Linked DNA regions of Homo sapiens. The protein of the gene in region 2 interacts with the protein of the main gene of each other region in a pairwise test. Each region holds a gene or a part of one and is shown on either strand. Other genes may lie near its edges.

What was found. The genes of interacting proteins can lie anywhere in the genome.
Region 1: the proteins of LPIN1 (region 2) and ATXN10 interact in binary tests that used the Homo sapiens proteins (3 or more experiments, as listed by UniProt).

The regions. Positions count from the first base shown.
Region 1 is NC_000022.11:45,687,944-45,692,874, forward strand, and holds part of ATXN10 (ataxin-10), read left to right. Parts: intron 1-1,768; coding exon 1,769-1,960; intron 1,961-4,931. UniProt on the Homo sapiens protein: May play a role in the regulation of cytokinesis. May play a role in signaling by stimulating protein glycosylation. Induces neuritogenesis by activating the Ras-MAP kinase pathway and is necessary for the survival of cerebellar neurons.
Region 2 is NC_000002.12:11,748,852-11,753,782, forward strand, and holds part of LPIN1 (phosphatidate phosphatase LPIN1), read left to right. Parts: intron 1-4,931. UniProt on the Homo sapiens protein: Acts as a magnesium-dependent phosphatidate phosphatase enzyme which catalyzes the conversion of phosphatidic acid to diacylglycerol during triglyceride, phosphatidylcholine and phosphatidylethanolamine biosynthesis and therefore controls the metabolism of fatty acids at different levels.

The DNA.
Region 1 (4,931 bases), on a different chromosome or scaffold from region 2:
CTACTCGGGAGGCTGAGGCAGAAGAATTGCTTGAACCCAGGAGGCAGAGGTTGCAGTGAGCCAAGATTGCACCACTGCAACTCCAGCCTGGGCGACAGAGCAAAACTCCGTCTCAAAAAAAAGAGTGTTAGTGAGTATTCTTCCATTCTTCTTACGGCAATGCTGTCACTAAAAAATGGCTTATGTACTTGTTTCATACAGTTTATTGAGGCAAGATTAGTGCTGTACCCTTGAATTTTCATTTCTTAATTTGGTCACTCAGTTGCCGAGACACTGAGTCAAAGTTTCATTATTTACACTCAGGGCTGACTGGGGGAGACATAGACAAATTATTTTATGTGCAGTTTCCCAGTTTTTAATTAATTTATACTCTGCCTCTTTCAAAACCAAGTTTGAGATACCTTAAAAAATAAATACGAGAAAAAGATAAGGGGGGAAATTAGGGGTAGTGGAAAAGCCAGATAGAAAAAGTAAGGATTCATGTTGTTTGGGTCATAAATTTGACTCCAGACTTAAGAAAGGCCCCGACAGAGAGAAAACATAATAAATAATGTGAGTTCTATTGTCTGTTCGTAAGATAAAAACACACATCACTTGGTGTATAAGAAGCCATGGTACTGAAGTTCAAGGAAAGACGTGTTTCCTCTGCCCCCGGAAAAGGGGCTTCCATAGGTGTCTTCTGCGGCAACTGAGCAGCTCTGTAACCTGGGCAGCTCAGTGTCCAGAGTTCTGAATGAACATGTGGCTCCCTGCTGGTCTGGCTCAATCCAAGGGTGAAAGGTAGGGCACTGTGAATCTACAGCGAGAGCAGAAGGAGAAAATTCATATGGTCTGAATCATTTGGCATTTATAGAATCTCTTAAATTGTCCAATGTGGCAACTTTCCTTCTAACGTTAAAAGAGATTTGCTGTTTCTTTAGGGGATTTATGGAATGAGGAAGTTGGCTTGCATTTAGGTGCAATGTTGCACAAAAAATTCTTATCTTTAGAGCTCTGGAATGATAGCCAGTGCAGGCAGTACTCCTGGCATGAGAGGCACGCAGAGACTGAGATGCCCAGAGGGTACAACCACAGGTTCATCTTTCTCCCTGGGCATACATTCTTGGTGGAAGAACAGGCACACTTTACATTCTCCCCCTCTCCTTTCTCTCCCATCTATGTAGTTGACTGTAGAAGTTTGGTGTGTGTGTTGTCAGCCTCACTGTGTCTACAGAGTAGATAGTATCCTTGTCCTACAGGAATATTGTTTCTTATAACTGAACTTAGCTACATATTGGGTGACAGAGGACCAGAATATATTCTCTGTCTAGAACATTAAATAAAGATACTCTGTTCTGATTCAGGGTAGATCCATAAGCATGAGCAGTCACTGGAACTGGGATTTGGGTTGTCATGGGTAGTGGAAGTGCTCAGGCCAGAGTGCTTCACTTGGCCTTGTGTCTCTGCCAGTTACTGGCTGAGTGATTTGTGCAAGTTACTTACCATCTCTACTTCACTTACCTTATCTGTAAATGGAGAGGACAGTGTTGGCCTCATAAGGCTGTTGCAGAGACTGAGATAATACATGAGAAGTGACAAGAACAGTGTCTGGTGCATAGTAAGTGCTCAATATGTGTAGATCTTTTATTTGGTGTTGTAAATTAAGGAGCTAAAGCAGATAAACGTAGCGTACCTCCCCACAATAGTAGATAAAAGCAGTTTTCTGAATAGGACATTTGGAAATCATAATCTTTTTTTTCTGATTCGTGATAATTTTATCCTTTTTCAGAGAAACAGCACCCAGGACTATCTTCCAAAGAGTTCTGGATATCCTAAAGAAATCTTCTCATGCTGTTGAGCTTGCCTGCAGAGATCCATCCCAAGTGGAAAACCTGGCTTCCAGTCTGCAGTTAATAACAGAATGCTTCAGGTGTCTTCGCAATGCTTGCATAGAGTGTTCTGTGAACCAGAATTCAATCAGGTAGTTACACACGTACCTTGGATTCTGTTTCTTTGTATATGTGCATGCTGGTTCTGTCATTTGGTTTATCTGTTAGAAGTTGTTTTGGGCTGGGTAAGGTGGCTCATGCCTGTAATCCCAGCATTTTGGGAGGCTGAGGCAGGAGGATTGCTTGAGTCCAGGAGTTCAAGACCGGCCTGGGCAACATGGTGAGACCCTGTCTCTACAAAAAAAATACAAAAAATTAGCTGGACATGGTGGCGCACACCTGTAGTCCCAACTGCTCAGGAGACTGAGGTGGGAGGATTGCTTGGGCCAGGGAGAGGCAGAGGTTGCAGTAATCTGAGATGATGCCATTGCTGCAGGCTGGGCCACATTGTGAGACCCTGTCTCAGGGAAAAAAAAAAAAAAAAAGTTGTTCTGGCATGATAGTATCACCCACTGTTATTGCAGGATTGCCCTTTACATCTGCTGGGAGAGGCCCTCTACAGGCCTTGCCATTGGAGTCTCTCTGACTAGTGTATAAAATAATGGAGTGTGTTTAACATTAGGGGTTAGATTTCTTGTTTGTTTTTATCACATGTTTTGAGGTATTTGGTTCTTCATAGTGTTTTGAAGCTGATTTTGAGTCTTTGTTCCTAGATTTTACCTGCCTAAGTTTATATGCAGTTCTTGACCTCAGGTTGTAAATGTTTTAATTACTTTTAATGTTTTAATTTGTTACTCTTGTGTTTGGACAAGAAGCATATTTTGTAAATTTACAAGATGACCTGTCTTTCCTAAAGATCATGTAAAGTTCCAAGCTCTGCTTCCACCTATTTTATGATGCGCACATTTTTAAAAGTAGTTAAAACATGAGCAGGCGAGCTGTCCAGTGCTCTTCTTTGCTTTTACGTGTTACCGTCTCCTCCCAGAACACAGCATCTTTCTTCTTTGATTTTGTGGAACCTGCTTTTTATTAAAAATTTTTACTTGAAGTCAGAAGCCACAAACAGGATGCTCACTTTCCTTCCTGGACTTGGATGTAGACAGAGCCTCCAGGCTTCCCTGTCACCACTGTGACGGGTAAGCTTGGGCTGGTCCAGAAGCCACTTGAGGGACTCCCTTCGGTTAGACACATATACCCGAGGCTTTGATATGATTAATGAGATTTTTAAGATCAAAGGAGAGAGGGTAAAAAGTGAGTCGTGTAACTTCAATACTAAACCAAACCTGCCATCCATTTGAGGATAAATGGATAGAAACAACAATAATCTTGATAATAATAGTCTACATTCTAAAACATAACTAGTTATATGCTAGAAGCATCTGGCCAGAAGGCTAGTTTCTTTTGTCCTTTTCCAGTCACAAGGTGCTCTAGTGTGATGGGGAAGGAAAGGAGAGCCGTAGAACTAACTTTTGACTGTGGCTGGCAGATACACCTTTGTGCTTGGCTAATCTTGGTGGGGAAGGGAGTGAGCATTCGTTGAGCCTGCCTTCGGCATTGGGCTTTGTCCCAAGGGTTTTGCTTGTAGTATCTTCTTTAATTCTTAGAACAAACTCAAGAAATTTTTTCATTTTTACAAAAGATGAAACTGTAACTTGGAGAGGTTAAATAACTTGTCTGAGAGTCACTTGTTAAGTGAGAGAGGCTGGGAACATTCTCTCCATATCCAGACATCTGACTCTAAAGCTTAAGCTTAACAAGCAGTCTGCCCTTACTGTTCTGAGCTTAAGCTCAAAAGCAGTCTGGGCCAGGCGCGGTGGCTCACGCCTGTAATCCCAACACTTTGGGAGGCCGAGGCGGGTGAATCATGAGGTCAGGAGTTCGAGACCAGCCTGGCCAGCATGGTGAAACCCTGTCTCTACTAAAAATAAAAAATTAGCTGGGTGTGGTGGCACACACCTGTAGTCCCAGCTACTCTGGAGGCTGAGGCAGGAGAATCACTTGAACGGGGAAAGCGGAGGTTGCAGTGAGCCAAGATTGGGCTACTGCACTTCAGCCTGGGCAACAGAGTGAGACTCCGTCTCAAAAAAAAAAATGCAGTCTACCCTTGCTGTCCTGAGCCTTACACACTGGTCTTGTTGTGGATGACTGCTCCATCTTGACCCTGGACAGGTGACTTGGTCTTCCTGAGTATCAGTTTTGTCCTCTGTAAAACTAGGTAAGCAATGTCTTCCAAACAGGCTGGTTATGGGGTGTAAATGAGATTACTTATGTAAATGCCTAATGCACATTGTGTGCTCAGTAAACATTAAATGTTTCTGCCTCTGCCTCAGGAATGAATGTACAACACAAGTTTATGTTAATACTTTCTTTCAAAGCAGTCAATTTTTATTTTCTTTTTTGAGTAATATATGCAAACTATAAAAATTCTAACATTACAAAAATAAATACTATGACAAGTAAGTTATCGGTGGTCTTTTGGTAGGGCCAGCAAAGCAAGGGCTGTGCTGTTTGTGATATCTTTTTATTGCATGCAACTTATGGTTGGGCGGAAATGAAAATGAACATTTAAGGGTGTTAATTTTTCTGCCTCTTCCCTTCTAGGATTGTATTATTATTCACTGTTGATTTTTAAAGGAAAATTTCAACCATTTAGGGCAGCAATTTTCAGAAAAGAATTTTCTAGTTAGAAATACTACAAAGATTCTAGTAAAGACTTTGTGGCCAAGCTTAACTAAGGCCAGTATTTCTGAGCCAGTCAAGATTCAGATTGCAACTAGTACATATTTTTCTGATGTTTTACTTTAAGTCGTTAAAGAGTTCATCAAAAGGTGTGATGCTATTAAAGCCTAGATCTTTTTACATCTTTTGCACTTTGTGTGGACTGGGACTGTTTTTGCCAAGAATGCATGGAATGGGGTAAAATACAATAAAGCAAAGAATCTGAGTCATGGGAAACTTCAGGAAGTACTCAAAGAAAGCTGTTGGAAGCAGTTAGCTCTGCATGTAAATATAACCTCTACTGCTAGGGTTGCTATATTTTTCCTGTAAAGAGCCAGATAATAA
Region 2 (4,931 bases):
CTTTTGGAGCATTTTGAGAGACATCCAGGTGTTAGGTCCCGCCAGGACACCGAGGCTGGTGGTTCGACCTGTTTGCACTTGCACTTCCTCACTGGTAGCCCGGGCGTGGGATCTTGGAGCTTTTGAGGGGTCCTGAGGAGGAAGTCCCTGGAATCACCCACTAGCAGCTTTGGGGCTTGTTCCTTGAGAAGGGCAAAGTCACAATTTTGACACTTTATTGAACCCTGGACCAATGTATTGTATAATAAGCCCACTCATTTAAAACTGGAACGGGGTGTGTGGGGAAAAAAGAGTTGGGACAAAACCCAAGCAAAGCCGTTCAGTGACGTCACAGGTTCTTCATTCAGAAGAGGCCCAGGTGCCTATCGGATGGCTGTTTCTGAAATGTTCGCTTTCTGAGCTGTGAGGGAGGGTCTGGAGAGAGAGAGGGGCCCATGCCTGTGTGTCGAGGGGACACACCCACACTGGCCCTGCTCCTTGATCAGAGGATGCACCAGCGCCTGAAGGGAATCTGTGCCCCCTAGGAGGCCACACTGGGCCCTGGGGCTGCTGGGGTCCGAAGCAAGTGCCCTGACCTCCCTTCCTGTGGGTTCCCTTCCTCTTCCTCTTTCCACAGCTTTCCCCTGTCTGTCTCCCTACCTGTAATTCACCCCAACAAGCCCTTAGCAGCTGGGGTTGGGGTGGGGTCTGTGCAGCCAGGGATATGTTGAGTAGTGAGTTTCTGCCTGTAGAAAGCTCTGGGTCTGGGCTGACCCAGACCCAGGCTGACACTTTTCACAATGAGGTATGTGGCCCAGGAGTCTTAAAACCTCAGCAGTGTCTGGCCCACAGGCTGTTCTGCACACTGAGGGATGCAGGGCGCGTTGTGCCGCTCCCACTCCCAGCTGAGAGGTTGGGAGGAACCAGATGGACTGGGCTCCATCAGGAGAGAAGCCAGAAGCATTTTCACACCGGTGGTCATGGCTACAGGGTCATGGTTACAGTGGATTTTTCAACCCACTGACCAAATGTTGTGATTCTTGCAACAACTTAAAATTTTCGGCTGATGCTGAATGCTGGGGCTTTCCAGAAATAGCCATAGGCTGTTAGAACAGGCACTTTGCTCTGTAAGGAGGCCTGTTTGTTCCTGAGTGTGAGCTGATTTGCATTGGCTCACAAAGTTGACCACAGACCCTGCATGGGAGACACAACCAACACCCCCATTTGCCTGCTGGCACGCACTTGTGCCCCCCTCCCCTCCCCGGCCTCGCTCCCTGGAAGCCCTCGCACCTCTCCCCTTGCCCTCTGTCCCCTAGCCACACACACTCACTTTTTGATGAAGTCGTCCTCCGCGTTCATGGATCTCACTAGGCTGTAGGTCTTCAGTTTACAAGACAGGAGACAAGCAACAAGGGTTTTAGGATAATGGGCACCAGACAAGACAGGCGCCCAGACAACTGTTCTGGCAAAACAATGTCCCACCATTGGACTCTGTGCAATGCCAGAATGCCACCAGTCTCGGGGTGGCCTCTTTGGGCTCAGATTTTGGGCAAATGAGAATGTGGAATGTAGGCATAGCCTTCAAATAGTTCTGTATTCATTTTAACTAGTAATATTCTTTGCCTCTGTCTTTTTGGGAAGGTACTATTTAAATAGGTGATATATACAAAGTCCCCTCTGGCAAGAGACGTTATTCAAAGACCGGATTTTGTCTGGAACCAGTTTGTGGTCACAGAATTAGCACGTGGTTTTTATTTGGTGCATGTGCTTTGAAAAGTACTTTACATTTACTGCCTCACAACAGTCCTATGAGGTGGCTGTGCTGATGTCATCCCTTTTTATAAAATAGATGCGAAACTGCAGTGCAGAGAGCTTAGTAACCTGTCTTTGATCACAGAGTTAGTGGAAGGTGGAGGCAGGATTTGAATACCTCCAGAGCCTGCGCTCTTACCTGCTGAGCTATATTGTCTCCTAATAGTGCCCTGGAACACCCAGGTGATATATGCCCACCTCCCAATTGCTGGGGTGTGGTAGGGGTGGGGGGTAATACAGAAATAAAGTTATAAGGGCAGAGCATTCTTTTTGACCAAGACACGAATTTGGACAGAGGGCTCTTGAAAGTGCGTAGAGAGAATGTGCCATTGGGTCTTTGAAGGAAAAGAACGTCCTGTCCTTAATCAGTGAGCTAAATAATTAAGAGCCAAAGGATCGGAGTCAAAGCCTTGGGCTGTTTTGCTCAGCATAGTTGTCATACCATATTTAGATGTCTACACCCACCTTTATCCAGGCCATTTGTATTTCTTGGCAGGAACGTGAGAACAAGCGTCACCTGGGGTTGTGGTATCTGAGGGTTGCAAAGTGTCAGCGCTGGAGGAGCTGAGTGATCACTCATCTGACCTTCCCTCCAAAGCAGGAGTACCCCTGTCCAGCACCCTGTCCTGTCTCAGTGGTTTCAGTGATGGAGACCCTGAGACTGAGTGGACCAGAGTTTTCCATCCTTCACTCCCAGTTCTCTGAGGTTACTAATAATTGACATGAAATACATGCAGACATAAAAAACACAAGCTAGAAAGCAACACTATGGGAAGTATTTATGATAAAAAGTGAAGATCTCTTCCTCCTTTTCCCAGGCTGGTCCCCAGGGGTGAATCTTGTGAATCTTGTTTTGTATGTATCTCATTCCAGAATTTTTTTATGCATATCAAAATATGTACAAATGTAATTTTTTAAAAATGGGTCCAGCTGGGCGCGGTGGCTCACGCCTGTAATCCCAGCACTTTCGGAGGCCGAGATGGGTGGATTACGAGGTCAGGAGATCAAGACCATCCTGGCTAACATGGTGAAACCCCGTCTCTACTAAAAATACAAAAAAATTAGCCAGGCTGGTGGCAGGCGCCTGTAGTCCCAGCTACTCGGGAGGCTGAGGCAGGAGATTGGCGTGAACCTGGGAGGCGGAGCTTGCAGTGAGCCGAGATTGCGCCACTGCCCTCCAGCCTGAGTAACACAGCGAAACTCCGTCTCAAAACAAAACAAAACAAACAAACAAAAAACCACAATGGGTCCATATTATAAGTATTTTTGTACCTGTTTTCATTCTATATATACATTTTCATGTTAATATTTATGGAGCTACCTCTCTACCATTTTATTATCAGCCTCATAATATTCCATTTTACAATGTGGATGGCCCATAATTTATTAAGCCAGAGTCATACAGATATTAAGTTATTTCTGATTTTCCCTATTACAATTAATGCTACAGTTACTGTTTTTGTACACGGATCTTACTGTATTTGTACAATCAGTTCCCAGCGGTATAGTTGCTAGGGTTTGCCAATAGGTGCCCCAAAAGATGGGCATTGCCACATTGCTTACCCCATTTATGACCCTGTTAGTAGTGAGTGACGATGTCTGATTCTCCTACTTTTCATGGGCCCTGGGGTTTTAATGAAATGCTTTGATTTTGGACCATCTGAAAGGCCTCTTTCGATTCCTGTATCTTTAATTATGAATGGGGTTGAATATCTCTCTCATATATTATTGGCCAAATGTGAACTGTCTATATGTTTTGTCCATTTTTTCTTTTGAGCTGTTCCAAGGCCATTTTTTTTTTTTTTTTGAGACGGAGTCTCGCTCTGTCGCCCAGGCTGGAGTGCAGTGGCGGGATCTCGGCTCACTGCAAGCTCCGCCTCCCGGGTTCACGCCATTCTCCTGCCTCAGCCTCCCAAGTAGCTGGGACTACAGGCGCCCGCCACTACGCCCGGCTAATTTTTTGTATTTTTAGTAGAGACGGGGTTTCACCGTTTTAGCCGGGATGGTCTCGATCTCCTGACCTCGTGATCCGCCCGCCTCGGCCTCCCAAAGTGCTGGGATTACAGGCGTGAGCCACCGCGCCCGGCCTCCAAGGCCATTTTAAACTGACCTTAATCTTCTAGAGGTGGCTGGTGTTGGCAAAAATTGTGGGGTTAGGAAAGCTGTGGCAGGGGTTTTGAATTTTGGCAGTTCCAAGAAAGCAGCGTTTCTTGGCAATTTGTGAAGCCTGGAGATGGATTCTGCCAATTTTGGAATAAATGTGGAATTTTCTAATTTAATCGTGAGGCAAGAAACCATGTGACCTCTGTCACCTCATCCTGACAGTGTCCGCAGTGCTGTCCTTTCTGGAACTGTATGAAATTGCGGTCGTGAATGCTTTGGAGCGTCTGCTGTGTGCTGGAGTTCTACAGATGAGCTTAATTATGGGAACGCCCTCCTGTCCCTGGGCAAGGAGGGGGATGAGCAGGGTGGGGGTGTGCTGGAGGAGGAGACGCCTGCCACTTTGCCACCCTGGAAGCTCACTGCAAGAGCTGCAAAATTTCCCACCTGCCTAACACAGGCAGGGCTTTGGTGGCGGGACCCCAGGGCTGGCTGTTTTTGCTCTTTCATCACTTTTGTCAGGAAGTATTGAAAGACCTTTAAAAGGCCTCTGACTTGCAGGGCCTCTGACCTGCAGGCCTTTTAAAGCATCTCCAGCTTTTCTAGTGAGTTTTTGTATTTTGGACGGGAATGTCTCACGAACCCTGGCATGCCAAGAAAGTCCCCAATTTCCCAGCAGGTAGTGATGGATGCAGAGCTGTGCTCTTCTGTTTAAGAAGCTCCTCAAGGCACTCTGGCCAGGACAGTTTAACCACAGGGACGCTGGTGGACTCAGTCAATCCAGACCTGGCAGAGGGCAGCAGCTGCCTATAAGTGTGTGCCAGTTACAGCAGGGCGTGGGCTGCTGCCCAGGTGGCCTGACTTTCTGTCTGTGTTCCTTTCCCTGTATCACCCTGAGTCTGAGCCAGACTTCCTCTTTTGTCACAGGTAATTCATCACCCTTATCAACCGCCGTTAAGTATCAGTCCACAATGCTCTGAAAAGACTTCCTCTTTGCCGTAAGTGTAAATTACAGGAGGAAGCTAACACTATTTATAAAT